4 separate regions of the Homo sapiens genome follow, and all the other regions are linked to region 1. The links come from fine-mapping of genetic effects on gene expression. A gene starts in region 1. Each other region holds a variant in brackets. All regions are shown on one strand. Distances are from middle to middle.

Region 1 (7,291 bases):
GAAACTCCTATGAGGGCACTGAAACTTCCCATTATTACAGGGCTCCGGCCCACAGCCATGGGGATGCCCCTTCCCACACCAGCTCCTGCAACTGGAAGGCTGTGGGCCACTCACTCTGAAGCCTCCCCTTTCCAGACACAAGGGCAGGAGTCAAGGGCAGTGGCAACATCCCCCAGAGATGCCGATGGACGGTGTTTCAACCTAAATCGGACAGCCGCACTCCCTCCCTGGCCACACAGCAGGACAGAGACCAGGACACAGCGGCCCACCCGCTGCCCTCACACTCCCCTCCTCCACGGTGTGAACTAAACCGCACACGTGGCCTGTTACTCGGACAAGGTGGGAAGGTGTGGCCCCACCCCCTCCTAAGACATTACGATGCGGAGAACCCCCAAGCCCACCCTCAACTGTGTTCACTGGAAACAGCCCAGCAAGGGCTACGTGTGCCTTCCGGTTTCACATTTGGGAAGTGGGTAAAATGCAGTATTGACAGTTCTCAAATATTGGTGTTGATCTTAACTGCTAGAGATACCGTGAGGGAAAAGAGCGCTTTTGTTCAACGTTTATGAATGGATAAAGGAGGAACTGAAACCAGCAAAGGGGCGGCTGGCCCTGGACCAGACGCGGCTTCGCCGAGGAGCTGTGGGCAGGGTGGGCCGGCACCTCCTTTCCTCTCGAGAAGGATGTGGAGAGCAGGTGGCTCGTGCCACCTGCCTCCCTGGCCCTCGTCCATGCCTCTGCACTGACCGCTGGGCTCCTGCCGCCCGGGGATGTGGGGAAAGGCCTTGGAGTGGGATGGAGGTCCGCGTGTGGGTGTGTGGCAGGTACCGGTGGATTGAGGTCCATGTGTGGGTGTGAACCTGGGTGTGAGACTGTGTGTGGGTGGGTGTGTACGTGAGTGTGCATGTGCACGTACACCTGTGTATGTATGCGTGTGAGGTGTGTGAACTGTGAGTGTGCTGTGGCTGTGAGCGTGTGCACACGTGAACTGAGCGTGACAGTGCGAATGTGTGTGCCGCGAATTCCACTGGCCACATGAATGCAGGCGAGGCCGCTCCGCTAGGCTGTGGATTTCCAGCATGGCCACGCTGGTTGCCTGTGTTGTCTTGTTGACACAGGATGGAGAAAGAACGATGCAGGATGCATCTCTGAGCCTGGCTCAGGCACCCAGAGGGAGCTGGGTTTGGGAGCAGCTGCTCTGCGTAGCCCTGGCTTGGATGCTGCGAGCCAGGTGGGCCTGGGGTGAGCGCTCGTCCCTGGGGTGGGTGGAGGCCCCCATTTCCCTCTCAAGTCCCCTCACTGTACATCACAGCCTCCTCCCACCCCCGCTCTGTTTAGAGAAAGCCCAGAGGCCCCTCAGGCTGAACCTCCAGCCCTCTTCTCTGACCATGTGGGTCTCCCTGTTTCCTTCCGCTGGCCTGGTCTCTGTAGGGCTCACTGAGCCTGCAGTCTGGGACCCACAGGCTTGAGGATTGAGGCTCGGGGCCTGGGAGCCTCCCTGGGATGTTCTAGAAAGCTATGGATGGGGCACCTGTCAGGGAGACAGCACACGGAGAGCCTCTCCCACCTGGGTCCTACCATAGCGGCCTGGGCCTGTGGGCTTAAAGAGCCGCTCCGGAATTTAACTGGGCCTGAGGGCTGGTGCCCTGTGAGGAACCCGGGATAGAACCTGGGGACAGAGGCCTCCATTAGTCCTTGGGAGCGGCAGGTAGCCCATGGGGTCACTGTGATCCCGGCACATTGTGGGAGCGTGCGCTGGGATGGGGAGGGGTCACTGTGAGCACGGTGCGTCGTGGGAGCGTGCGCTGGGATGGGGAGGGGTCATCGTGATGATGGCACAGCACACTCTCCTGTGGTCTAGGTTTAGGGATGCCAGTGAGACCCGCTGAAGCGTTGGGGCCCTACCCGAGGTGAGGCGTGCCCAGGTCTGGGGACTCCTGTCTTGGGGCCCCTCCCAGGAGAACCACCCCCCTCCTCTGGCAGGAAGCCCCCAAAGCTGTGGAGGAGCCCTGGGCCCACAGACAGCATCCCTGCTGCTGGGGACCCCAGGCCTGTGCGGGTGCCGCTGCCATGGGGCTGATGGGGCCCAGCCCAGCAGCCCCTGCCTTTGCTTTCCCGGCTTCTCTGCGGCTCTGTGCTTTTGCTGCCCCATTCCAGGCCGGAAGGCTCCCGCGCCTCCATGGATCTTCATGATTTGGCCAACCAGAGTGAGCACCGTGAGGAAGTGGAGACAGACACAACTTTCAGCAGCAGAAGACAGGATAATAAAGTTGGGTTTGGTTTATGATCTAACGTGACCATTAAAAGTGTTTAATAAACAACGTTAAAGACTACTTAGTGGCAGATGCATCCGGCAATGCTTAGCATAGCCTCATGACTGTCAATACGCACAGGCTTGAAAAACACCTGCAGGATACATGTGGGCATGTTAGTGTGGGTTATCTCAGCAGGGCGGCATATCGAATCTCGGTGCCCTTCTGTAGTGTCTATATTTTCTACAGTGAAGCTGGGATACTTTGGTGAGCAGAGGCATTGTTTTCAAAGTTCCCATTGGTACTTCCATCACATCCCCGTGTGGTTCTGTCCTGGACCGGCTGCCCACTGAGGTCCCACTCGCCCCTACCCTGCCCTGTCTGGCCAGCTGGGTACCTGCCCAGGAGGAAGAGGCTCAGTGTTTGGGGCCTGTGTTATGCCCTGAAAAGCCACTGCTGTTGGGTGAGGGCCCATGAGGCCTTCAGTTTGCCATCGTCATGTGCTTCTGAAGAGCCAGGATGCTGTCCACTGTTTGTCTCCTGGCGGGACAGAATTCCACTCAGTGCATATCAGGGGCAGTGATGGGGCTGGGGGTGTGAGGGCTCAGCTGTGCCCTGAACTCCTTCACAGTCTTGCAGGAGGGGTCATGGAGCCATATCTGGGTTTGCAATTTTTGGAAAGTTACGTGACGATCTGCACTCAGGAATGCTGAGTGTTCGGCAGGCCCCATGAACAGTGATCAAATGTGACGCTGTGTGTCCCACAGCCTAAGGGCTGTGGCAGAGACCAGGAGGGCCATCAGCTCCCACAGCTTTCGAGTCCACCTCAGGGCTCCTCCTTGCTGACCTCCCTGGGTTGTCAGTGGAGACAGCCACCCTCCCACAGAGCACCTGCCTGAAATGGGCCAGGCCGCCCCTGTGCCCTGGCTCTTGCTGCACATGCTGAGGTCAGCACGGAGGCGCCCTCGGGCACCAGCATGCCCTCGGGTTTGCAGCTTGTCAAATATCCCATGAAGGCAACCTGACCAAATGTGCTCTAACACCACTGGACCAATGGAACGTCTTGGGCTGAACAGATGCAGCCTTGCATCCACCGCCTGCCACCACCCTCTGTGTACACCCCCTGCACACACCTCTGCACACACCCCCCCTGCACACTGTTGCACATACCCCCTGCACACAGCCTGTGTACACTCCCTGCACAGATCCCCTGCACACAACTCCCTCACACATCCTCTGCACAAACCCTGTGTATACCCCCTGCACACACCTCTACACATACCTTCACACACCATGTATACCTCCTGCACACACCTCTGCACACACCTCCTGCACACACCTTGTGTACACTCCCTGCACACTGTTGCACACACCCCCTGCACATAGCCTCTGCACACAGCCTGTGTACACTCCCTGCACAGATCCCCTGCACACACCTCCCACACACATCCTCTGCACAAACCCTGTGTATACCTCCTGCACACACATCTACACACACCTCCTGCACACACCTTGTGTACACCCCCTGCACACTGTTGCACACACCTCCTGCACACACCTCCTGCACACACTGTTGCACACACCCCCACACATAGCCCCTACACACACCTCTGCACATACTGTTGCACACACCCCCACACATAGCTCCTGCACACACCTCCTGCACACACCTCCTGCACACACTGTTGCACACACCCCCACACATAGACCCTGCACACACCTCCTGCACACACTGTTGCACACACCCCTTGCACATACACCCTGTATATACCCCCTGCATACTCCTTATGTACAGCACTGCACATACTCCCTGCAGAGACCCTGTGTGCATCCTCTGCACACACCCCTTCTGTATACTGTCTGCACACACCCCCTACATGTACACCCTCTGCACACTCCTCCTGCATACACCCCATGTACACCTTCTGCACACACTCCCTGAACACATTCTGAGTACACCTCCTGCACACCCCGTGTACAACCTCTGCACACACCCCCTACACACTCCCCTACACACTCCCCTACACCATCCACACACACTCCCTGCACACAGCCCCTGCACACATTCCCCATGTACACCCTCTGTCTGTGTATACCCTCGTCTACTACCACCATACGTACCCCCCACCACTACCCTGCCTTGTCTATCACCCCCCAGGCTGTGACATACCAGGGATGTTGCCAACGAGCTGGTCTAATCTGGGGTGAGGGTTTCTGGGTGCCCCTAGACACCAGGAGAAAGGCGGGGAGGGGACACCCCTGGGGGTCTGGATTCACTCCACCAGGCGCTGGGCCACAGTGGTACGGTGACACAGTAGATGTCTTGAGCAGGATTAAAGTCTTCCCAATAAACAGGCTGAACTCTGTCTTCCTTGAAAGCTCTGTAGAAGGACCTCACAAGGATAAACACAGCGAGACCCTCCAGGGCGCGGTCAGCCACGAGCCACAGTGCTGGGCCTGTGACATCTCTGGAGGTTCTGGGGTGGAGAAGGACCGGCCGTGGGGAGTGACTGGCTGGGGAGAAGCTCAGCTCCCGCCCACCTCTGGGAGGCCCGGGGCTGGACGGGAGGTGCAGCAGACAAGGCTCCGGGCGGGTGCTGGGGTGTCTGGAGGGGTCCCCGCGGGGGGGTCGGGTTGGGTGGGGAGTCTAGGTGAGTCGGGGGTCCCCGGGGGCGCTGGGTTCAGGGTGGGAGCGGAGTGTGGATGGGGCAGGGTCCCCATGCCCACCACCAGCCGCGATTCCACCGCGCCTACTCGGGGTTTCCCCGGGAGGACACCGCGTGTGTCAAGGGCCGGGGCCTAGAAGGCGGCCGCGCCCAGGGAAGCCTTGACAGGGAGCTATCTGGGGCGGGGGCTGGGGTCGCGTGGCCAGTACCTGGGAGAACCGCCATTCAGGAGAACCCCCCGCCAGGCTCTTGGTTCCGCCCACGCAGTCCCGCCCCCTCCCCCAGCCACGCCCCTCGCCCCGCCGCGCAGGCCCCGCCCCGTCCCGCCAGGCTCTCGGTTCTGCCGACGCAGGTCCCGCCCCTCTCGTAGCCTCGCCCCGCCCGCCGCGCAGGCGCCGTCCGAGGGCTCCGTTTGAAACATGGCGCGGGCTGGCCCTCGGCTGGTGCTGAGCGAGGAGGCGGTTCGGGCGAAGAGCGGCTTAGGGCCTCACCGCGACCTGGGTGCGCCGGAGGGCGGGCGGGGGTGCAAGCGTGAGGTGGCGGGGGGGTGGGTGCCGAGCTTCCCGGGGCGGCGGCGGACCGTGGGCAGGCGGGACCCGTCTACGCAGGCGCCGCGGGCGTCCGGAACGGTCGCGGGCGAGCGGGGCGCGCGTGTCCAGGTGAGCGACCCACCCCCCGTGCCCAGGTGCGGCCCCTGCCCGCGTTCGGGTCCCGGCGTCCCGGCCCCTGCCTGTCTATCGGGTCACTGGTTCCGTGACTGGGGGTTACATCCGCTGAGAAGAGGGAGCCGGCCTTGCTGTCCAGGAGCGCAGCCCGCCCTCCCGCTGGGGATCACCTCCCTGGTTCTCCTGGGCCCACTCTGTGGTGATTGTTGCGCTCGGCCTTCTTGAGGATGTTGGTGGCCGGTTTCCTTCTTTTTGGCTTATTTTTGTCTGGTTTTGGCGTCAAGGTGAAGCCGAGCTCATAAACTGCTGAGAAGTGTTGCCTTCTCTTATATTTAGAAGAGGTTCTGTAGAGTGTGTGCTCATTGTTTGAATGTTTCCTGGAATTTTCCAGTGAAACCATATGGACATGTCAATTTCTGTTTTTGAAGCTTTTAAATGACAAATTCTGTATCTCTGGTTGTTAGAGAACCGTTCATATTAGTTCACCGCGAGTCTTGGCTGTGTGGGGTTTTGTGGCATTGGCTTATTTGAGCTAACTTGTGGAGTGTGTGTGTTGAGTTGTTTCTGGTGTTCTGTTGTTAGCCTGTTAATGTCTGTGTGTGGTCTGCAGGTGTTACTGGACCAACAGGTTCAGTCAGGTGCTGTGGGGGCCACAGGCCAATACACTGAGACAGTGGGGTTTGCAGCAGAGAAAGAGTTTAAGGCTGGCAGGGGCCCAGCAGGGAGGTGGAAGGAGGCCTCAATCCATCTCCCCAAGGAGATCTGAGCGGTTTTTTTTTTTTAGACGGAGTCTCACTCTGTCGTCCAGGTTGGAGTGCAGTGGCACAATCTCAGCTCACTGCAACCTCCACCTCCCAGGTTCAAGTGATTCACTCAGCCTCCTGAGTAGCTGGGATTACAAGCACGCGCCACCATGCCCGGCTAATTTTTTATATTTTTAGTAGAGACGGGGTTTCACCATGTTGGCCAGGCTGGTCTTGAACTCCTGATCTCAGGTGATCCACCTGCCTTGGCCTCCCAAAGTGCTGGGATTACAGGCATGAGCCACCTACACCCAGCCTGAGCTGGGGGTTTTAGAGGAACAGGACTGTGAGGAGCTGGAAGATTGGTGTTGTCAGTTGGTGGAGGTAAGGGCCATGGAATTATCAGGGTGTGGAAACTGCATTCTTTGGTGAATCCGCTTGCGGGGCCCTTTAGACCAGCTGGCATCAGTCCCCAGGTCCTGAAAGAATATCTCAAATGGAAAACTTAACGGTTTATAATGTCCAGGTTATTATCTGTAGAGTGGTTAAGGGGAACTGTAACCTCGTGACAAAATCCAAGTGATCCTGAGGCAGTAGGCACCACAGGGCTCTGAGGAAGCAGGTGAGAGGGCAGCTGACCTCGGGACATGCCGAGTCCTCCCTTCTTCCCTGATTAGTGCTACAAGGTTTACAGGGATATCCCTTTTCTGTTCCTGATGTTGATAATCTGTGTATTCTTTCTTTTTTAGTCTTGCTAGAGGCTTGTGAATGTTATTGATAGTTTCAAAGAACCGACTTTGGGTTTGATTTTTCTCCAGTGTTTTTCTAGTTTCAAATTTCATTGATTTCTGCTTTTTTTTATTTCCTTCTTTCTGCTTGCTTTGCATTTATTTTATACTTTTCTAAATCCTTGAGGCAAAACTGTAGATTATTGATTTGAGACTTTCCTATTTTCTATTATAAAC
Region 2 (7,291 bases), 42 kb after region 1:
GTGAGGTGTGACTGTGAGGCGTGGACTGTGAGGGGTGACTGTGAGGTGTGACTGTGAGGTGTGACTGTGAGGTGTGACCACGAGGCATGGACTGTGAGATGGGACTGTGAGGTATGTGACCATGGGGTGTGGGCTGTGAGGTATCAACCCTGAGTGTGAGGTGTGACTGTGAGGTGTGACTGTGAGGTGTGGACTGTGAGGTGTGACTGTGAGGTGTGACTGTGAGGTGTGGACTGTGAGGTGTGAATGTGAGGCGTGACTGTGAGGCGTGACTGTGAGGCGTGACTGTGAGGTGTGGACTGTGAGGTGTGACTGTGAGGTGTGACTGTGAGGTGTGGACTGTGAGGTGTGACTGTGAGGTGTGACTGTGAGGTGTGGACTGTGAGGTGTGACTGTGAGGTGTGACTGTGAGGCATGGACTGTGAGGCGTGACTGAGGCGTGACTGTGAGGCGTGACTGTGAGGCGTGGACTGTGAGGCGTGGACTGTGAGGTGTGACTGTGAGGTGTGACTGTGAGGTGTGCCTGTGAGGCGTGGACTGTGAGGCGTGGACTGTGAGGGGTGACTGTGAGGTGTGGACTGTGAGGTGTGACTGTGAGGTGTGACTGTGAGGTGTGGACTGTGAGGTGTGACTGTGAGGTGTGACTGTGAGGTGTGGACTGTGAGGTGTGACTGTGAGGTGTGACTGTGAGGCGTGGACTGTGAGGCGTGACTGAGGCGTGACTGTGAGGCGTGGACTGTGAGGCGTGGACTGTGAGGTGTGACTGTGAGGTGTGACTGTGAGGTGTGCCTGTGAGGCGTGGACTGTGAGGCGTGGACTGTGAGGCGTGGACTGTGAGGGGTGACCGTGAGGCGTGGACTGTGAGGCGTGGACTGTGAGGTGTGACTGTGAGGCGTGGACTGTGAGGTGTGACTGAGGTGTGACTGTGAGGTGTGACTGTGAGGTGTGGACTGTGAGGCGTGACTGTGAGGCGTGACTGTGAGGCGTGACTGAGGTGTGGACTGTGAGGTGGGACTGTGAGGTGTGACTGAGGTGTGACTGTGAGGTGTGGACTGTGAGGCGTGACTGTGAGGCGTGACTGTGAGGCGTGGACTGTGAGGTGTGACTGTGAGGCGTGGACTGTGAGGCGTGGACTGTGAGGTGTGACTGTGAGGTGTGACTGTGAGGCGTGGACTGTGAGGTGTGACTGTGAGGTGTGACTGTGAGGCGTGACTGTGAGGTGTGGACTGTGAGGTGTGACTGTGAGGCGTGGACTGTGAGGTGTGACTGTGAGGCGTGGACTGTGAGGTGTGACTGAGGTGTGACTGAGGTGTGACTGTGAGGCGTGGACTGTGAGGTGTGACTGTGAGGCGTGGACTGTGAGGCGTGGACTGTGAGGTGTGACTGTGAGGCGTGGACTGTGAGGTGTGACTGTGAGGTGTGACTGTGAGGTGTGACTGTGAGGCGTGGACTGTGAGGTGTGACTGTGAGGCGTGGACTGTGAGGTGTGACTGTGAGGCGTGGACTGTGAGGTGTGACTGTGAGGTGTGACTGTGGGTGTGAGGTGTGACTGTGAGGCGTGGACTGAGGTGTGACTGTGAGGCGTGGACTGTGAGGTGTGACTGTGAGGTGTGGACTGTGAGGTGTGACTGTGAGGTGTGACTGTGAGGCGTGGACTGTGAGGTGTGACTGTGAGGCGTGGACTGTGAGGTGTGACTGTGAGGTGTGACTGTGGGTGTGAGGTGTGACTGTGAGGCGTGGACTGAGGTGTGACTGTGAGGCGTGGACTGTGAGGTGTGACTGTGAGGCGTGGACTGTGAGGTGTGACTGTGAGGTGTGACTGTGAGGCGTGGACTGTGAGGCGTGGACTGTGAGGCGTGGACTGTGAGGGGTGACTGTGAGGCGTGGACTGTGAGGTGTGACTGTGAGGTGTGACTGTGAGGCGTGGACTGTGAGGTGTGACTGTGAGGTGTGACTGTGAGGCGTGGACTGTGAGGCGTGGACTGTGAGGCGTGGACTGTGAGGCGTGGACTGTGAGGCGTGGACTGTGAGGTGTGGACTGTGAGGTGTGACTGTGAGGTGTGACTGTGAGGCGTGGACTGTGAGGCGTGGACTGTGAGGCGTGGACTGTGAGGTGTGACTGTGAGGCGTGGACTGTGAGGTGTGACTGTGAGGCGTGGACTGTGAGGTGTGACTGTGAGGTGTGGACTGTGAGGTGTGACTGTGAGGCGTGGACTGTGAGGCGTGGACTGTGAGGTGTGACTGTGAGGCGTGGACTGTGAGGTGTGACTGAGGCGTGGACTGTGAGGTGTGACTGTGAGGTGTTACTGTGAGGCGTGGACTGTGAGGTGTGACTGTGAGGCGTGGACTGTGAGGTGTGACTGAGGCGTGGACTGTGAGGTGTGACTGTGAGGCGTGGACTGTGAGGTGTGACTGTGAGGTGTGACTGTGAGGTGTGACTGTGAGGCGTGGACTGTGAGGTGTGACTGTGAGGTGTGACTGAGGCATGGACTGTGAGTTGTGAATGTGAGGTGTGGACTGAGAGTTGTGGACTGTGAGATATGACCTGTGTGCAGTGTGACCAGGGGAGAGAGGTGCATGAGAGATGGTCGGGCACGGCGGGGCAACCTGGTTCCCCTGGGCGGTAGTCCGGCAGCTGTGCTTCCCCCTTCACTGCAGTGCGTGTTCAGTTGGAAACACGGAGATTTCACCTTTACTCCCTGGCTATAGGGGGATGGTGAGAAGGGGGCTGGGTGTGAGGGGATCTTCAAGGCAGAATCTTAGTTTGTCTTTTAAGAATTGTGTGCCGGGACGTGGTTGGAGGCTGGGTGCAGAAAGGAAGAGGCGAGCTGCTGGAGGAGGCAAGGACAGGTCGCTCTGGGCAGTTTTGTGGGTGCTGCTGTGTGAACCCCTGTTGCTGTGGCCTCAGCAGGGAAGGCTGGTCTGTGGTCAGTTCCTCCCCCTCCCCTCCCCCTTTCATTCCCTCTTCCTTTCCCCCGACCTCCCATTCCCGCTCCCTCCCCCACTCCTCAGGCTGAGGCTGCCACACTTACCTGGGTTCGAC[C/T]ACAGTCTGGTCATAGGCGTAGCCAGGCTCTGCCCCTTACAGGATAAAGGCCACAGACCCCCATGGGGCCCATCACAGGTGTAAGTTACAGAGGGGAAGGGTCCTGAAAGATGAGACTGGGCCAAGAGGAGATGCAGCGGAGCAGAAGGAAGGGGACTGTGGCGGCCGCGGGTGCAGTGCCCAGTCGTGGGCAGGGCCATGTGACTCCCTGGAACCTGGTGGGCCTGTCTGTGGCAGGTCAAGGTACAGTTGGGGGTCATTCTCCTTGAGCACTGTGGCCTGGATGTGGACAAGGCAGGGTGCACAGCTCCCAAACATGGTGGCATTGGGCTTCTGCCCCCAGGATTCATGCTGGCTTCATCCAGTCCTGGCCTGCGGCTCCTTTGCTGTCCAAGTGAACAGGGCCTGGGCCTGCACAGTGGCCCTGTCAGTGGGGTGCCCATCTCTGTGGCTAATGTGACCGAGGTCAGTGGGCCCTGCCTTGTCTAATACTTGTAATGCCCTGAGTGTCCTCAGGTCATCGCTGACTGGGTGATTAGGGCAATTTGGAGGTGACAAAGTGGGTAAAATGTAATAGCACTTTACTTCTAAAATAAAAATGGTCAACAGCATTAAAGACTAGGACTCTTCTATTGCACTATTATGATGTCAAAATTATTATATTTGACTGGGAATTAGAACTATTTCAGTCCCCGTATATTTTCTAGAATTAGAACATTGTTTTGCTAGCCATGAAGTTTATCATCTTCTCATAAAACCATGCGTAGCTGGAATAGCCAAGGCGCCATTCAGTCACTCATTAGCCTGTTCAGCTCATTCATTCATTCCATAGGTGCTGAGCCGCACCTCCAAGGCTGCTCCCAGGGGTCAGGACAGTGGTTGGGAAGGAGGAGGCAGGTGGGCGGTAGCCAGTGGGACACAGAAGGTGATGGGGCCACAGAGATAGGTCTGTGTGCAGGGCCAGGGCACCTTCGTGCCCATGCAGGGAGGTGGGCAGGCCCAGCAGGTGAGGGCCACACCGCTGGAGAGGACGGAAGTGCCAAGCAGCCGCTTCCCTGTTGTTCTGCAGCTCCCTGGTCAGCACCAATGAACACCTGCTGCAGGAGCTGAGCCAGGTGCGGGCGCAGCACAGAGCCGAGGTGGAGCAGATGCACTGGAGCTACCAGGAGCTCAAGAAGACCATGGCCCTGTTTCCACACAGCAGCGCCAGCCATGGAGGCTGCCAGGCCTGCTGACTCCTGCCGAGAAGCTGGGCCACCCCTTAAGCTTCCTGGTAAAGTTACATTGTCTGCACCTTTGTACTTCTTTATTGAGTGTACTGGCTGGCAAGAGTTCTCTCTTCTGTTGGTAATTATTTAGGATTTTTGGAATGTATTCAGGACCTGTAGCTTGGTTTTCTAAAGCACCTCGTAAAATGATATGATTACTCCAAGCCCTCTGCATGTTTTCAGACAGAACACATTGACATATTTTGAGACAAACTGACTATTAATCTTGTATCCAGTATCCTGAGATGAAGTAAATGCAGTGTTCTACTGCCTGATGTGAAAGAGAGCTATGTATGATAATTAAAGAAAATAATTTTCTGTGTAACAAGCAATCTTTATTTAATAAACAAATACATTGTTCTGAAAAGTTAACTTTTTCAGTGGCTGTATACAAATTATAACTGAGTTTGTCATTGAGTTTTTTATAGAACAAGCTGTGCACCATGATAGGTGAGTGGGAATAATTAAGTTCAAAGACTTAACACAAGTGACACTTATAGATGTGGGGGAAAAAACCTTAAAAATATTGTCTTATGATATTAACATATCACAGCGGAAACATCTACCCAAGCCCTGGCTCGCTCTCTTGTTTGCAGTGTAGTTCTGAAAATTATGTCATAATAGGACACAAAACTAGATTTTTAGTTTGGAAACTTCATATCTTATGTCATACTTGCTGTGATTGGTAAGACAAGGTCATTTTTTAAATGACGTTCAACTGATTTGGGAAGAATGAGCAGGCCTAAGAAGAAAATGCTCTGTGCTAGCTCTGTGTGTGTGTGTGCCCTTGCTGTGTGTGTGTGTGCCCTTGCTGTGTGTGTGTGCTGTGTGTGCGCTAGTGTGCGCTTGCTGTGTGTGTGTGCTAGCTGTGTGTGTGTGCTGTGTGTGCGCCTAGTGTGTGTGTGCTAGCTGTGTGTGTGCTAGCTGTGTGTGTGTGCTGTGTGTGCTAGCTGTGTGCGCTTGCTGTGTGTGCTCTGTGCGCGTGCACTTGCTCTGTGTACTAGCTGTGTGTGCATGCTAGCTGTGTGTGCGCTTGCTGTGTGTGTGCTAGCTGTGTGTGCATGCTTGCTGTGTGTGTGTGCTTGTGCGCTTGCTGTGTGTGTGTGCAGTTGCTGTGTGCTAGCTGTGTGTACGCTTGTGTGTGCGCTGTGTGTGCGCGCACGCACCCTGTGTGTGTGCTGTGTGTGCACGCGTTGTGTATGTGCACTTGCTATGTGTGTGCTTGTGTGCTAGCTGTGTGTGTCTGCTAGCTGTGTGTGTGTGTGCTTCTGTGTGTGTGTGTGTGTGCGTGTGGATTGTATCCCTGGGGAAATCAGAGGTGGGACTCTGCTGTCTCTTCCCCGAAGAGGACTTGCTAGGCTTCAGGCTGCCCTCTTGTGTCACCTCTCTGTCCAGTTGTGGTCCTAACAGGAAAATGTGTCATACCAAATTTATTTTCTGTAGGGTTGGGATGGGGTTAATTTGTCATCACGTAATTTATGTATGTAAGAGTATTAGAAGATGTTAATATTAATCCACTTTAAGCTTATAGATGCTTACCTCGTTTGGGTTTCATTGAGCTTCTTGGACCTGTGAGTTCATATTTTTCACCAGATTTGGCAAAGTTGCAGCCACTACTCATATTTCTTGTCTGACCCCGTCTCTCACTTCTTCCTCCCTGTCCCCATCTGGGACTCTAGTTAGCTTTCTGTTAGACTGTGATACTGTCTCTCAGGTCACTAAACGTGATGCTTTTTCATCCTTGTTCTCTCATCCTTTCCTTTAGGTGGTTTTATTGTCCTGTTGCGAGGCTTACTAATCTTTTCTTCCACTTGCCTAATTTGATGTTAAGCTTGTATAGTGAATTTTTTATATCAGAAATTAGGTATATTTTTGTTCTAAAATTCCATTTGAGGCTAGGCGGGGTGGCTCACACCGTAATCCCAGCACTTTGGGAGGCTGAGGCAGGAGGATCACTTGAGGCCAGGAGTTTGAGACCAGCCTGGCCAACATGGCGAAACTCCATCTCTGCTAAAAATGAAAATTAGCTGGGCATGGTGGTGGGCACCTGTAGTCCCAGCTTCTTGGGGGGCTGAGGCAGGAGAATCGTTTGAACCTGGGAGGCGGAGGTTGCAGTGAGCCAAGATTGCAGCACTGCACTCCAGCCTAGACGACAGAGCAAGACTCCGTCTCAAAAAAAAAACAAAAAAACTCCATTTGATTTTTTTCATTAGTTTTATATCCCATTATGTTCACGTTTCCATTAACTGCTTAACCATGTTTTTAACAGGTTTACTAGAAATTCCCAACTGTTCCAAAGTGGTGGTACCCGCAGGCCCGACTGCTAGTTGTGTATGACCACGTCTGCCGGTCCATGTTTTCAGCACCCATTGCCTGAAGTGTTAGCACCTTCACTCCGGTGGGTGTGGGGTAGTGGAGGGAGTGGGGTGGTGGAGGGCGCGGGGTGGCGGAGGGCGCGGGGTGGTGGAACGTGTGGGGTAGACCTCTTTCTGGTTTCATTGGCTTCTCCTTGTTCAGCACCTTCTCATGTGTCTGCGGCTCATTGGGATTTCCTGTTTGTAAAGTACCTATTCAAGTATTTTCCCTACTTTTCTATTGGATGGTCTGTCTCATTTATTTGCAGGTGTTATTTATGATTCTGGGTAGTAGTGCTTTGTGAATTACATTTGCAAATAGCTTTTCTTGTCTTTTTACTTCAATGGTGTCTTTTAAGAGAAATTTTAAACTTTAATATGGCCCAATGTATCAATATTTTCTTTTATGATTAAAGCATTTTGGATCCTAATTTTTAATAATCTTTACTTTGCCTTGATCATAAAGATACTCTGTTACCTTCCAAAGGATTTTATAGTTTTGTATATTTTGGATTTTAGATATAGATTCTACCCAGAATTGATTTTTGCGCCTGTTGTGAAGCTTAAGGATCCAGTTTCATTGTGTTGCAGACATAAGCCCAGTTTTCCCAGTCCCGGCTGCTGAA
Region 3 (7,291 bases), 41 kb before region 1:
AGCATGCCCGGTGAAGCAGGTGCTGCTCCTGCACTATTTTACAGGTGAGGGGACAGCCCTGGGCCACCTCTGTGACCCGAGTCACCGAGGTGCAGTGTGTGACTGGAGGGTCCTCTCTGTCCCTGATAACAAGACACTGAGCTCTTACTCTAGCAGAGCTGGGCCAGGAGCCCTTAGGCAACAAGGCGACCCCTCCCAGGATGAGGCTTTATTTCACATACTTTAAAGATTACCCAATAGCTTATAATTCGCTGACTAAAAGCATACAAGTTTGCTAAGACAATAACTAAATATCACCCACGTAGTCTCCAGGGGAGGAGGAATCGCTGAAAAATACCATCAATAAAAGTTAAAAACTGAAAGGATAGGTCTAACAGTGAAATAGTTTCCAGTTTTCAACACTTCTCTTTAAGAAAGCATACTGTAAAAATGAGAGAAAAAAAGATCTTGACTAGAAGGCATTTGCCAGTCATAGAACTTACAAAAAATTGTATCCAGAAAAACAAAACTCTGTAAATCAATATGAAAAAGACAAGCAACCCATATTTTTTGTTTGAAGAAGGATATAAGGTTGTTTGCCCATTCCTGAGCCAATGTAATGCTGTCTTAATAAATGGTTGATAATAAATCCTGGCATCTGCTGTGGTCTTCACCACACTCATCCTGGCCATTATTGATCGTTTATACCTCCTTGTAAAATTCAGGACAGCCTGTTCATTTCTATTTTTAAAAATCCTATTGGGATTCTGATTGGAATTGTATTACATTTATAAATAATTTTTGGAACTTATCTTCAAAGAAACAACAAAGGTTTCACAGCTGACTTTCAGTGAAACCATGGGAGCCAAAAGAAGATTGAATGGCATCTCAGCAGTGGTGAAAGGAGAGAAAGCTGCCAGCCCCGAGTCTGTGCTCACAGAAGCACCCCAGACAGGAAGAAGAAGTAAAGCCAGCCCGCAGTCCTGTGCTCACAGAAGCACCCCAGACACGAAGGAAAAGTGAAGGCATTTTTGGAGAAACCAAGGCAGATCTGCACCACAAGACATAACCAGGGCATTCTTAGGCTGAAGGAAACAGCCCCGGGTGAAACCACAGAGAAGAGCCTGCCGAGGGGCGGGAGAGTGGGTGACGTCACGCGATAAAGCAGCGCCTCAGTCCATGGGGACATGAGACAGGCGTCCCCATCATCGTCACAGCCAGTGGCACAAAACAGGGAGGGAGAGAGACTAGAGACAATGGGGAAAATAGAACGGGCCTGGAGATCCCAATGGGAAGTGAAGGGTCTTCGGGGTCACAATCGTATTCTCTCTGGTTTTGGTGTCTAACGGAAAACCCCATAATAAACTGCCAAACTCACTTAATGAGCCACCACTTCAGACTCATCATATTGGAAAACATTTTAAAATCTAAGAATGAACACCCAGGCCATGCAGAGAATGCCCAGAACAAGAGAGAGAGAGAGAGAGCAGTGGACAGAAGACTCAAGCAGGCAAGTCCCAGGAACATCTGTAAAGATGAGAATGAACACCCAGGCCATGCAGAGAATGCCCAGAACAAGAGAGAGAGAGAGCAGTGGACGGAAGACTCAAGCTGGCAAGTCACAGGAGCATCCGTAAAGACAAGAATGGGTTCATTAGTGATGGGAAGATGCAAACTAAAACGTAAAACCCACGAGACACCATAGAATACCCACAATTCAGACCTGCTGGCACCAAGAGCAGTGTGCAGCGTGGTGTGGAGGCTCCCACACTGAGGACGGGAATCGGTGATGCCCCTTGAGCTGGGCAGGATCTACTCAGGTCCAAGGCTCACACGTCCAGCGACCCCAGCTGCTAGTGACCCTCGCACACACAACAGGCCATAAACAGGAACCCATGGCCCCCACGGCCGCTAGCAGGAGGCAGGACATGGCTCCATGGCTCAGGGAAGCCAGGAGACAGCACCAGTGCCTGCCCAGCCCACCTGCCCTCCAGCTGCCGCCCGTGTGGGCCTGCACCCCTGCAACACTCGCCTGTGGCTGAGGGGCTGCCTCTCTGAGGGGCCTGGGAGCGAGGTTGCTGCAGCTATCTTCCGCCAGCAGCCAGGAGGCCTCTGCAGCCCTGCTGGACCCCTGGAGAGTACATCCCGGAGAGAGCGTGGCTGCAGGCAGAGCCCTACGCTCCCCTCCCGCGGTTGCTGTTGTCTGAACAGCCACGCCCGTAGCAATGGTTCAGGGGTTCCTGGGGCCTTTTCCCCCTGGGTCTTCCGCCTGTCTTTCGGGGTCGAGAGAGCTGTACTCGGGCAAGCCCCACCATCCTGCACTCACAGCAGAGCCCTGGGGCCTCCTATCTGCACCCAGCCCTGAAGCTGTTGTCTCTGGCTGCAGCCCTCCTGGAAGCCACAGCCTTTCCCCCTTTCCCTATCCCGAAGCTCTTTCACCACTTCCAGGCCACCCTCCCTTCCTCTTTCCTAAACCCTGGGTCATCGCGACACTGCCCCCGCATCCCCGTGACAGGGCATCCCCTCCTCTCTCTAGGGTTTCAGTTCCTGGCTCAAAGCAGCTCTCCACATCGACCCGTGCCTCGATTACTGGCAACTTCAAAATGTGCACAGAGCCCCCCTTGAACTTGGCTTCTCAGATCTCTGAGCCCCTCCAGGGGTCCTGTCCTCCACCTGCCCGGCCCCTTGCCCCACATTCACAGCCCAGACACATCGCGGCAGCTCCCGCACCCCCCTCACCCCGGGGGGGCCTTCTGCCCCCTCAGCACCGTGAGCTGGCCCTACCGCCCCTGGCCCTCCTGGTGCCTCCTGCGCCTGCTGCTCTCCCGTTTCTCCTCTCCATCATGTCAGCAGCCCTTTTGCAAACAGACCCTTGGTCTGTTGGGGCCTCTCAGGCATGGCACAGGCTCACCTGTGGGTGTCTTTGCAATGGCAAAGCACCCACCTCCATTTCCATACCCGCCCCTCCCACTGACCCGCATTCCCAGTCGACCCACCGCTGCCTGAGGGTCAGCGGTCCTAACATTTAGAAAGGGCCACGTGGTGCCCAGTGTCCAGGTGGGGCTGGAGCCAGGTCCTCAGCCCCCAGACCCCTTCCTCCTCCCACCCTGGCCCCAGGCTGACCAGTCCTGAGTGCAGACACCGGTGCCACAGGGACATCCCAGCTGGGCGAATTCTTTTTGTAAAGAGGAGGTCCTCAGAATCAGCTCTAACTGTCATGCCCTCTTTGTTTATCTTCATCGTAGTCGCAGCCCTTGCTGGGTGGTCAGTTCTTTGTTAAGGTTGATACTGAGCCCCAAATCTGATTTGCCCCAAGAGATGAATGATTTTCTCTGCAGTTACTGGGCGGCTTTCTTAGGACTAGAGAATGGTGAGTGGTTGACATTAATCTCCGCAAACTCAAAATAAAAATGGAAACAAATGTACCAAGAGCTGCAAGGCAACGGCTGACCCACCCCCCACATGGGATCACAACCTCTGGTGGCCATCTGTGCACACCCAGGTGGGGCCAGGCCCCGGGGCCCTCTCTGATGGCAGCCGACGGGCTCCCTCGGGCCTGCGCAGTGCAGCCTGGACGGCGTGGGCTTAGGTGGCCATTTCACCACAAAGTCCCTTCAAAGGCTCAACAGGTTTTGAGGCATAGCCTCCCTCCTCCAGACCCCGCTGGCCGGCCGTGTGGAATGAGAGCTGAGGGTGTCTGGTCTCTCAGGGGCATCGGGGAGGGAGGCCCAGCGATGGCCTCGGTGATCCATTTGCCGCAAGAGGACCAGCGCTTACTCGAAGAAGATTTAAAACACACAAGGAACCGTGAAACCAAACCAGAAAAGCCCTGCTGACCGAGCCGCCCCTTCTAGAGGCCGAACAGGCATGGAAACCCTGAGCCGACACAGGCACTTACCCAGCAGAGAGGACAGGGCCACCAGGATCCACATGGCCACAAAGAAGGGGGTGTGCACGGGTAGCCAC[C/T]GCAGGCTGACCACTGGAAACCCGCTGCTGTTCCGGGCAACGGGGGGCTCTGGCCCTGGGCCCCGGCCAACGAGTGTGCAGGGATGGGCTGTGCCCACCAGCAAGGCCAGCAACGTGAAGGCACAGAGTCCAGACCCCTGGGGCTGCATGCTGGGGGCACGTGCCGCCGACAAGGCGCTGTGTATCCGCCGGGCTCTTCTCGACTTCGTGGACCTGGTATCTGCAGGGAGCCACCTCGTTGGTCCCCGGTGAGCCCTAGAGCTGTGCCAGTTCTTCCTGCCTCACCCCAGCACCTTCCCTCTGCTGACCACAGCCCAGCCTTGTCCTGGGCAGCCTGTGGCCTCCAGGCCGTCAGCAGATAAGCATTCCGTGTGGCTAGAGGGCCTTCCTGGGAGCTGGACCTCCCCAGCGGGAGTTCAAAGCCCTTGCCCATTTTCCTGGTCTGGGAACAGAAGCGGCCCGCCCATCCCCTCTATGAGATTAGGTTCTACCTATCATGTAAAATAAAAGCTGATGAAGAAACAGGGTTTAATTGGTTTCTTATCAGGTGTTTCGTCCTTGTTTGGAATTCTGTGTGGATGGGGGAGCCATGGGATTACACCCAATAAGGTCACCTGCAGATCAGCAGTGCGGCCCCCGTGGGGTCCGCACCCAGGCGTGTGCTCACCTGCAGATCAGCAGTGTGGCCCCCGTGGGGTCTGCTCCCGGGCATGTGCTCACCTGCAGATCAGCAGTGCGGCCCCCGTGGGGTCTGCTCCCGGGTGTGTGCTCATCTGCAGATCAGCAGTGCGGCCCCCGTGGGGTCTGCACCCAGGCGTGTGCTCACCTGCAGATTAGCAGTGCGGCCCCCGTGGGGTCTGCACCCAGGCGTGTGCTCTGCACCCAGGCGTGTGCTCACCTGCAGATTAGCAGTGCGGCCCCCGTGGGGTCTGCACCCAGGCGTGTGCTCCACAAAGCCCCCTCTGGCTTCAAGGCAGCACTGGGTCCTTTGCCCCGGACCCTCCTGCTGTTCCCACGTCTCCTCTGGCTCCTGAGCCTCACCTCCACTGGCTCCTGAGAGGCTCTTCCTCCCGCACACCTGTGCCCAGGTGGCCTTGCCCACTGCAGGTGCAAAGCCCCTACCTTAGCATCGGAGACCCCAAGGCTGGTGGGGGTGGGGTGTCCTGCATAGTCAGCCCCAGCCTGGGGCAGGAGGCCGGGGCCTGGTGTGGCCTTGCGGGGAATCAGAGCCCTTGCCGGCAAGGGCTGTCCACACAGCAGGGGAGCCGAGCCCAGGCCAGAAGGGAAGGGCATCTCCAGCAGGGGATGGTCACCTAAGGGGATGGTCACCTAAGGGGATTGATCCACGATGCAAATGTGTCAGAGGCCTTGGGAGCTGGTCTTACTGTCAGAGTTTCAGATTTTGAAAAGAGAAAACTGTCACAAACTCTGACTTGGATTCGGTTTGGAGGCATCTGTGTGAATTTAGGATTTGCAAAACGAATAGGAGTGTATAGAAATAAATACGGCCTGCCTCCACGTCTTCAGGTTCCGCACCACAGATTCAACCGAGGATCAAAGATACTTGGAAAAGAATAAAAAATAACAATATAGAAAAAATACAAATAAAAATAACAACACAGTGTAACAACTATTTACATAGCATTTCCATTGTATTCGGTACAATGAATAATCCAGGGATGATTTAAAGTACCGGGAGGATGTGTGCAGGTTACTTGCAAATCCGACATCATTTTACATCAGGAACTTGAGCTCCTGCAGGTGGGTTAAACTCGGGGGTCCTGGAACCCATCCCTTGAGGACTGCAAAAGACAAACATATGGGTGTCAATGACAGTCCCAAATCATAGACCCTGGAATAAAGCTGGAACCCACAAGCCCATCCTTACATGATAAAGATGCGGAAGACTTTAGGGGTCTTTTGCAGCCTCTCAAGGTGCCTCGTGACTGTGCTGGAGTAGACCAGTAACTGTACTGTGAAAATGCTTGACAGCAGCAGCTGACTCCACGCGGACCTGGAGCCGCGGCTGCGGGCAAGGGCACCTGCACACAGGGGTGTGCAGCACGGGAGAGGCTGAGCTGTGCCTCGGATGCTCCTGCCACAGGCTCATAGCTTGGTCCTGTCTCGAAGAAACTCCTGACACACCCCAGAATGAATGAGGGTCTTCACCCAATAAGTGCCCCGCAACCATCTCGGGAGAAAAAGAGGCCAAGCCGCAGAGGACCATGCTTGGTTTCAATTGGACAGCTGGATTCGCTCCGAGGGCTCTGAGGTCAGCAGGTGGCCACCAGTCAAGCCGATGTCCTGACCTGGGAGTACGCAGGACAAGGAGGCACCGAGTCAGCAACAGACCCCTAGATGGTCAGAGAGATATTCCCGTGCTACTCTTGACACCTTTCTGTAAAAGAAAAAATTCAAATAATACATTACTTAAATAAATTAAAAGTTTATATTAAAAAATACACACAACTTCTGCTTCCAGCTACAATATAGAAAGTCTCAAGAGCCTATTTTCACCAACAACCTAAACAAGCCACATAAGCTATAAATTCACAATAAAAAAAAAAACCCGCCAGAAAGCTGAGGATACATAGACACCCGATTGAATTAAGCCACCAGAAGTGAGGAGCCCCCAGGGGAAGGGTGTGGCTGATCACTGGCCCGGAGACAATGGGGTCTGAAAACGAAAAGGCGGCTTCTGCAAGCTGACGAAACCAGACACCACCAATAAACAAAACCCAAATCCACAAACCCAGAATTTTATACAGAACAAAAACGTCCTTCAAACATGAAGGGTAAATACAGATATTGTCAGACGATAAAAAGCATTTGTTGCCAGCAGAATTCGAGTGTGGAAATCATAAAGGAAAATGTTCAGCTGAAGGAGAACGACCTTGGGCTGGGAACAGGGAAGGGCCGAGTCCTTATGCGGCAAATTCAGCACTGGCAATTACTGACTTGCTGAAGCGAGCTTGTCCTCCTCTTGACCTGTGGGCCACATGTGGCCCAGGATGGCTTTGAATGCGGCCCAAGACACATTTGTAAACTTTCCTTAAAACATAATGAGATTTTTTTTGTGATTTTTTTTTTCTTTTAGCTCATCAGCTATCGTGTTAGTGTGTTTTATGTGTGGCCCAAGACAATTCTTCTTCTTCCAATGTGGCCAAGGGAAGCCAAAAGATTGGACACCCCTGGGCTAAAGGAACTTCAGTGACAGTGCTGGGTTGTCATGTGACGTTTGTACGATGCCAACAGCAGAGATGGTAGAAGGGTGAACGGGCGTGAGCCATCCTCTCCGGCACGGCTAGTCTTCCCTGACACCGTAACGCTAGTGAGGAATCGCTAG
Region 4 (7,291 bases), 31 kb after region 1:
AGAGGCGTTGAGACACACCTGCTGTAGACATGAGTGCAGACCACCCAGAAGGGAACAGGCAGGGGCTGTTCACTTGGTACTTGCCACAACGAGGGCTTCAGACTCCCATGCAGGCAGAGGAGCTTGAAGGTGCGGAACTGTGGGACAGGAAGGGAGGCATGGCCGGAGCTAGAGGCAGCTCCGTAGCAGCATGGGGTGGGGGGGGGTCCCAGAGCTGGGTGGGGCGTGTTTGACGTCCCCGGCAGGTCCTGAGCTGGAAGGAGGCAGAGATGGGGGAGGTGGGCGGTCTGTTTCAGGGTTATTGTTTGACTCCGGGCCATTGCTGGGGACAGCGCCTGGCACCCTCTACCAGCCTGACTGTGGGTGCAGGCTGCTTCCTGGGCAGCTCCTTTTGAACACAGGCTCTGACTGCGGCCTGGATGTGTCTTCCGCTTCCCTGTCTGGGTTGAGGGGAGGAGTCTGGGGCCTGCTTGAGTTGGGAATGTGTGGGCCCCGTCCTGTCCTGTCATCGAGACCTCACTCATCCAGGACCGGTGCACCTGGCTAAGCCTCACTGGGCAGGCACTGCTGAGCCGCCCTCCACCTGGCTCAGGGCTGGGGCCTCAGGGCACCTGTCCTCCCCTTCGTGGTGCGAGGGCATCCCAGGGTGCGCTTGGGCACCTGCTGGCATTCAGGACCTCAGTTACTGACTCGCTGGCCTCATGCTGTTGTTTCCATCACAGCCGTCTCCCGGGTCACACTCGGCTCTACCCGGGAAGAAGACGGCCCTGCAGGCGGCGCTCCTGGAGACGCTCTTGGACCTGGTGGACAGGAGCTGGGGCGGCTGCAGGTCCCTGCACAGCAACGAGGCATTCCTTGGTGAGTCAGGGCGGCCACTGCTCTTGCCCTGTAGGCAGCGTCTGTGTGGGTTCCGGGGTCCTCTGCGTGTGGTGACCTAGGAGTCATCTCAGCCCCAGGTCTCCTATGTCCCCTCCCACGAGCGTGTGGTGGTCCCGCGCCTGGGCCCTCCCTGGCAGTCTTTGCATCTCACAGTGTCCAGGGCTCTCGGGAGACACCACATGGGCCTGGGCCTGTGGGTCCCCCGCTGTGCTCTGGGGTGTTGGGGGGCCTGTCACCTCATTTTGCTCAAAATGCTGTCCAAAGGGGCTTGGTTCTGATGGCTGTGATCACATGGGGATTTGGAGTTTGGAAGCTGCTCAGCATCTTCTCCCCCGACCCAGACGTGTAGCCTGTGCTGGGCCTGGATTGCAGAGCTTTTGGTTGGTGTGGGACCCAGGAGGGTGGTCCCTCCCCAGAGAGGACTTGGGTCTGTTGGATTCTACCAGGCAACCCGTACATGAGCACACTGGGGCCTCCCTCATCCAGGATCACACTGGGAGACCAGGAGATGCCGCGTCCCCAGGGGCACCTTCTCTTTGTCCTGCATCCTGGGGTGTGGCTGTGTGTGTCCCTCAGGAGCCTAGCCAGTGTGCTTCTCCCCGCAGACCCTGGGCACGGCTCTGAGCTGTCTGACTGCGCCTTGCAGTGTTATAGCCCCTCAGCTCCTAGAATGAGGACGCCCTGCAGTCGCAGCCCACCTGGACCCCAGCCCCATAAACCTCCCCTCTCCCTAGGCTGGTGTCCTGTGGGAGCCTCCTGAGCTTGCCATCGTCGGTGGCGGGGGGACTGTCCCAGGCCCAGGCCACTGTCCCAGTGTGGAGTTGCCAGCTGTCGTCTGCATGGTGGTTTCCACACAGGGCAGTCGGTGCTTGTGGAAGGCGCAGCGAGTTGTGGCGGCGCCACTGAAACCTTGAGACGTGGCGGCCCCTGGTTGCCCCTTTTCTTGGAGGTCACCTCTTCTCTTTCTTCAGTTCCCACCCTGCCCGTGTGTGGACGCACAGAGCCTGAGGTGGTTTTGTGGCGCCAACACCCCTTTCCCCTCTCCCTACCTGTCGTCTTTTTGAGGCATCGTCTGTGTGATTCAAAACATACTGAGCCGATTTTGTTTACATTTCATCCTTTAAGCCTAAGTGCTAATGTAATATTTGGTTTTCACTCCTAGCTCAGGCAAGACACATCTTGTCATCTGTTGAAGAATTCACAGCAGCTCAGGACAGCTCTGCGATGGTGGGTGAAGATGTCGGCTCCCTGGCTCTGGAGAGTAAGTCCCTGCAAAGCCGCCTTGCTGAGCAGCAGCAGCAGCACGCCCGGGAGATGAGCGAGGTGACGGCGGAGCTGCACCACACACACAAGGAGCTGGTGAGCCCGCCCTGGCGCTGTGTCTGTGTCCATGTGACTGGGGGAAACATGGCTCTGACTTCCAGGAACGAGGGCAGCTCCTTGATGCCACACTGTCCCAACTGCCATCTCTGCAGCCCCATGTCTCCACTCCCTGCCCGGGACCCGGCCACCCCCGGAACGCGGCCTGCCCTGTCTCACAACAGGCCTGGAGCACTTTGGAGACAGCAGTGGCGCTGGCCACCTTCTCTCCCCGGGCCCAAGGGACCCTCCACCACTGGGCAGTGCCGGGTGCTGCAGGAGCCAGGCCTGGACGTGACTTTGTCTTGCTGACCCATCTCTCAGGGCCTCGAACTGGGGAAAACCGAGGCCACTCTCCTTTTATGAAGGAGATGACGGCCAGTGTCCCATGGTGAGCTGGGGCTACAGGGCAAGTTACCCCAAAACCAGCAGCTGAAAACCTGCATTTATCACCTTGGATTTCTGTGTATTGGGCCTCAGGCTCAGCTCAGCCAGGCTCCCTCCTTCCGTCTCAGCCGTGGGCCGGGGCCGCCGTCTCATCTGAGGCCTCATGGGGGCTCTGTCTCAGCCGTGGGCTGGGGCCACCGTCTCATCTGAGGCCTCACGGGACAGGATCCTCCCAGGCTCCCTCCACGCTGCAAGGGCCTCCCCACGGGCTGCTGGCATCCTTAGCACAGGGAGCTGGTGGTCAGAGAGCCACACCCAGGCAGAAGCCGCCCTCCGGGAGTCCTGGTGTGAGGGCAGAGCCACGTGAGGATGTGCACATCCAGAGGGGCCTTGTCAGCATCTTTAAATTGCGAGTGAAGTCGGCCCGGGACGGCTTCGAAAACTGCCTCTGAACTTGTCTGACAAGTACATACTGTCCGTTTCATGGGAACCAACATCTCAGAGATCCCACACAACGCTTCCTCTTTAGAGAAGAAAAACACAGCAAAACAACACAGGCAGCCTCTGTTTAAACGCACGTGGCCCCCCCACCCCGCCTGGAAGCCTCTGCACGTGGCCTTCATCTGGAAGCCTCTGTATTTAAACACATGTGGGCCTCCTCCATCTGGAAGCCTCTGTATTTAAACACACGTGGGTCCCCATCCCCCGTCCAGAAGTCTCTGCATTTAAACACACATGGCCCCCCATCCCCCATCCAGAAGCCTGTGCATTTAAGCACACGTGGTCCCCCGTCTAGAAGCCTGTGCATTTAAGCACACGTGGTCCCCGGTCCAGAAGCCTCTGCATTTAAGCACACGTGGTCCCCCGTCCAGAAGCCTGTGCATTTAAACACACGTGGTCCCCCGTCCAGAAGCCTGTGCATTTAAACACACGTGGTCCCCCGTCCAGAAGCCTCTGCATTTGAACACACGTGGTCCCCCGTCTAGAAGCCTGTGCATTTAAGCACACGTGGTCCCCCGTCTAGAAGCCTGTGCATTTAAACACACGTGGTCCCCCGTCTAGAAGCCTCTGCATTTAAGCACACGTGGTCCCCCGTCCAGAAGCCTGTGCATTTAAACACACGTGGTCCCCCGTCCAGAAGCCTCTGCATTTGAACACACGTGGTCCCCCGTCTAGAAGCCTCTGCATTTAAACACACGTGGTCCCCCATCTAGAAGCCTCTGCATTTAAGCACACGTGGTCCCCCGTCCAGAAGCCTCTGCTTTTAAACCAACGTGGCCCCTCCTCTGGAAGCCTCTGTATTTAAACACAC[A/G]TGGCCCCTCATCTGGTGGAAGCCTCTGGATTTAAGCACACATGGCCCCTTCTCTGGAAGCCTCTATATTTAAACACGTGTGGCCCCCCGTCTGGAAGCCTTTATACTGAAACACACGTGACCGGCTGTCTGGAAAGTGAGCTGGGCGCCGTCACTGATGATGTCTTTTCTGTGGGACACAGTCAGGCACACCCCTTGCCCTTCTGAGCCTGGGACGAGACAGAGCTGACAGGCGGAGCCCAAAGGTGTGCCGAGCACCAGTGCTGCCAGGGGTGAGAGTCACATGCAGCTGTGGCTGCCGTGGACGCCTGCTTTTTTGCCCTCTGCAGTTTGCCTAACCCCTGCAGTTTGCAGGCAGCCCTGGGCCTCTGGACAGAGCAGCCCTGGTTCCCTGTCAGGGTGAGTGATCCAGAAGAATCTGGCAGCCCGAGCCCCGCGGGTAAGGAGCAGTCAGCACCGTCAGGAACCCCGCGGAGGGAGCAGCCGTGCAGGCTGGTGGGCACTGCTTTCCAGGGAGGCCCACATCTGTCACTCCAGAAGCACCCAAGTTTACTCTGCCACGTGAGGACGCTCATCCCTCGGTCACATGAACCTAGACCTTGCTTCCTTTGGAAGCTGCAGTCGGGTGTCCTGAGGCAAGGTGGCCCCACTTCCAGCTGCTGTGCCTGGCACGGCCTCTGAGGCAGATGGGCTGCGCCCAGCTTGGGTGCAGTCGGTCCTCTGTTCCCTGCACCTGTCGTGGCCTAGACTCCAAAAAATAAAAAATTAGGTGTGGTGGCACACTCCTGTCATCCCAGCTATTTTGGGAGGTAGAGGCAGGAGGCTCAGGAGTTGGGGGCTGCAGTGAGCTGTGATTGCTCCACTGCCCTCTAGTTTGTGCGACAGAGGGAGACTTTGCCTCAAAGAAACAAATGAAAAAGAGCTGGGAGCTCACAGCCCTGCCTTAAGAGCTCACCGCATCCTTGGGAGGCAAAACCATGAGACGTGGCACTGCCAGGAGCTTTCTGGACGACCCAAAGCCCCGCGCGGAGGGCAGGTCATGCTGGTTGGCGCCACTGCAGCAGACACCTTGGGGAGAAGTCCGCGAAATGAAGAACGGGCCAAGATAAGCCTGAGGGGAATGGTCTCAGACCCAGCGATCAGCTTTCACCATGGGCGTCGGGGGCCTGGCGGGTGCATGCATGCTGAGGGGGCTGTCGGCGGGTGGGCTCACTGAGCGGAGAAGGATGAAGCGGCGATACCCCCAGCACGAGGCTTCTGCTGCACAGACTCAGGCGCTCCCTCCCCTGGTGGCAGTGAGCTGGGGCCTGCTCAGCACCCCCGGCCCCAGGATGTGCCTGCTGGTGCCTGAGAGAGCAGCAGCCAGGTGAGACGGGATCCCTGGGGACCCTGGCCGCAGGTGCTGGCGGCTTGGATGGCTCACACCTCACCAGACACCCTGGGGCCAGGGAGGGGCAGAGGCTGCCGTGTAGCTGCAGGCGTGGCCCTTTCCCCTCCTCGATGACAGCTCGTCCTGTGCTCCAGGTCTTCTCCATACTTTGAGGATATGAAAGGAGCCAGAACAGAAGGGGGTTCCTGCAGGGCCACCGGTGCCTCACACTGGCACCAAGGCCTGGGGCTCGCAGTGTCCGTGAGGGCGTCCTGGAAGAGACAGGGTTCCCCCAACCGCCACCAGCTGCCCTGCCCAGCATCAGGCCTGCAGGTCCTGCTGGAGCACATGCCTCAGGGAGACTCAGGAGTGGGGCTCTCACAGGACTGGGGCGCTCCTTTCCATCCCTCTCCTCACTTCCCCCCTCCCCTGAGGGTGCTGCAGGGCTGGGCAGGGCGGGCTGGGAGCAGGGAGATGTACCGTGAAACTGAATTACTGCCTTTCACATCGTGACTCCCAAGTATGCAGAAGGAACCCTCTGGGGATTCTCAGGTTTCAGTTTTACTTTCTATACGCATTTTACTGAATTTGACTTGTGCACTTAAGTGTATTTTCTGTGTCCGCAGGATGATTTGAGACAACATTTAGATAAATCTTTGGAAGAGAACAGTAGGTTAAAATCGCTTTTGTTGAGTATGAAAAAGGAAGTGAAGAGTGCAGACACTGCAGCCACGTTAAATTTGCAGATCGCTGGTAAGTTGATCGTGTATTTGGTCACTTTGTAAACTTTAGGTGTTCAAATGTGCCTAGGTAGACTTTGTTTTAAATTCTTCACTGAGGGAAGTGAGCAGCAGCAGACGCAGTTGGTAAGTGGGGAGCCGAGCCCCTGCCTCACTGGCTGGGGTGGAGGCTGCCTCGGCCGGAGTTTATGGCACACACGTGTGTCTGGGGCAGTCCTGGCATGGATGTAGGAGGCAAGGCCACCCCTGTCCTCACCCTGCCCGACCGTCCTCCCCTCAGCACAGGGTGTCAGGGCTGCAGCTGCTGGAGGGGCCTGGTCACTGTGGGGTTTGCTGCTCCTGTCTGGCGTCCTCCCATGGTTATGCTGCCATCGAATTTGGTGAATGAGCCTGTTGCCCAGCGTCTCAGCGTTACAGATTCAGGTTGCATTTCTGGTGAACCCGTGTCTCTCCCGAGCAGGCCTGCTGTGGTCAAGATGCAGATCTTTCTCATTTCCCTCTCTTCACTTTTTTTGTTCTGTTTTGCTATTTTTACAAAAGTGTATTCAGTATTTCAAGTTCAGATACCTGGATTTTAAATAAGGAAATGCTGATGGAGTCTGCTGTCCACGGTAACCTTCTCGGTGTGGCGTGGAGTCTCTTGGAAGTTTTAACTCATACTTCCCTGAGATTGACAAGTCGAGCATCTCTTCCTGGTCTAGCCTCTCAGGGGCTCATGGACTTTTCCTCAAAGGCCAGGTAGTAACCGTTTCAGGGCGTGTGGGTCTCACGATGTCTGTCCCAACCAGCGGTGGCCTTTGCGGCAGGGAGGCAGCTGTGGATGAGGCCTGTGGCCGCTCTGTCTCCTTTGGGGCAGCGTCTCCTTGGATCTTTCGCCCGTTGGTTTTTATTGGGTTGTTTTATCGAGCGGTAAGAGTTCCTTAGAGTCTTCTTTTTTATTTATAAATTTTGCTTTTCTATCTTCTGTTTCTTTAAGATACTGTTATATTTACAACGGGTCCTTGAATAACCGTGTCCATTCAACATCATTTCGTCGTAAAGGTGATGAGAAAAAAAAAAAAAAACAGTTCCCTGCCCGGGAGAACTGTGTGTGTGGTTTGCTCTCCCGGCTCTGTGGGCTTTCTCTGGGTGCGCTGTTTTCCCCCATGCCCCAAAGCTGTGCACGCCAGGGTGTTGCTGTGTCTGACCTGTCCCATCTCGAGTGAGTGCAGGCACCAGCCGCCCTGCTGTGCGATGGCATCTGAT

Alleles and levels. Alleles are on the strand shown, and positions count from the first base shown. SD is a standard deviation of normalised expression in the study named. Not every link is listed here.
For the expression in naive CD8 T cells of the gene that starts at base 5,316 in region 1, allele C in region 2 goes with a higher level than allele T (large effect, 0.77 SD a copy in Schmiedel 2018).
For the expression in iPS cells of the gene that starts at base 5,316 in region 1, G is the low allele of the variant in region 4 and A is the other (large effect, 0.77 SD a copy in HipSci).

Evidence for each region. PIP is the estimated chance that this variant, and not a neighbour inherited with it, causes the effect. A credible set is the group of variants that fine-mapping cannot tell apart.
Region 2: its variant is the best candidate, but not a certain one, in a credible set for the expression of CEP72 in naive CD8 T cells (Schmiedel 2018, PIP 0.90).
Region 3: its variant is the best candidate, but not a certain one, in a credible set for the expression of CEP72 in whole blood (INTERVAL, PIP 0.70).
Region 4: its variant is the best candidate, but not a certain one, in a credible set for the expression of CEP72 in iPS cells (HipSci, PIP 0.52).

The regions. Positions count from the first base shown.
Region 1 is chr5:607,025-614,315 of GRCh38, forward strand. It overlaps CEP72 (centrosomal protein 72), which reads left to right and starts at 5,316. Exons shown (of 12, transcript NM_018140.4): 1 at 5,316-5,419. The coding sequence starts at 5,338. It overlaps CEP72-DT (CEP72 divergent transcript), which reads right to left and starts at 5,186. Exons shown (of 3, transcript NR_103444.1): 1 at 5,128-5,186; 2 at 4,423-4,729. LOC105374608 (a long non-coding RNA gene) reads left to right here. Exons shown (of 8, transcript XR_007058672.1): 8 at 41-586. RefSeq lists enhancers at 4,239-5,169, 5,170-6,099.
Region 2 is chr5:648,876-656,166 of GRCh38, forward strand. It overlaps CEP72 (centrosomal protein 72), which reads left to right. Exons shown (of 12, transcript NM_018140.4): 12 at 4,113-4,678. The coding sequence ends at 4,278. Among named protein-coding and RNA genes, the nearest start is that of CEP72, 40 kb to the left of the region's middle. The variant C/T (reference allele first, on the strand shown) is at 3,044.
Region 3 is chr5:565,995-573,285 of GRCh38, forward strand. LOC105374607 (a long non-coding RNA gene) reads right to left here. Exons shown (of 3, transcript XR_925671.1): 2 at 5,834-6,343; 3 at 5,050-5,747. Among named protein-coding and RNA genes, the nearest start is that of MIR4456, 34 kb to the left of the region's middle. RefSeq lists enhancers at 4,240-4,829, 4,830-5,417. The variant C/T (reference allele first, on the strand shown) is at 3,946.
Region 4 is chr5:638,367-645,657 of GRCh38, forward strand. CEP72 (centrosomal protein 72) reads left to right here. Exons shown (of 12, transcript NM_018140.4): 8 at 723-858; 9 at 2,042-2,238; 10 at 5,933-6,059. Among named protein-coding and RNA genes, the nearest start is that of CEP72, 30 kb to the left of the region's middle. RefSeq lists enhancers at 4,462-4,631, 4,691-5,191, 5,192-5,692, 5,235-5,294, 5,315-5,364 and 2 more and a cis regulatory region at 7,003. The variant A/G (reference allele first, on the strand shown) is at 3,938.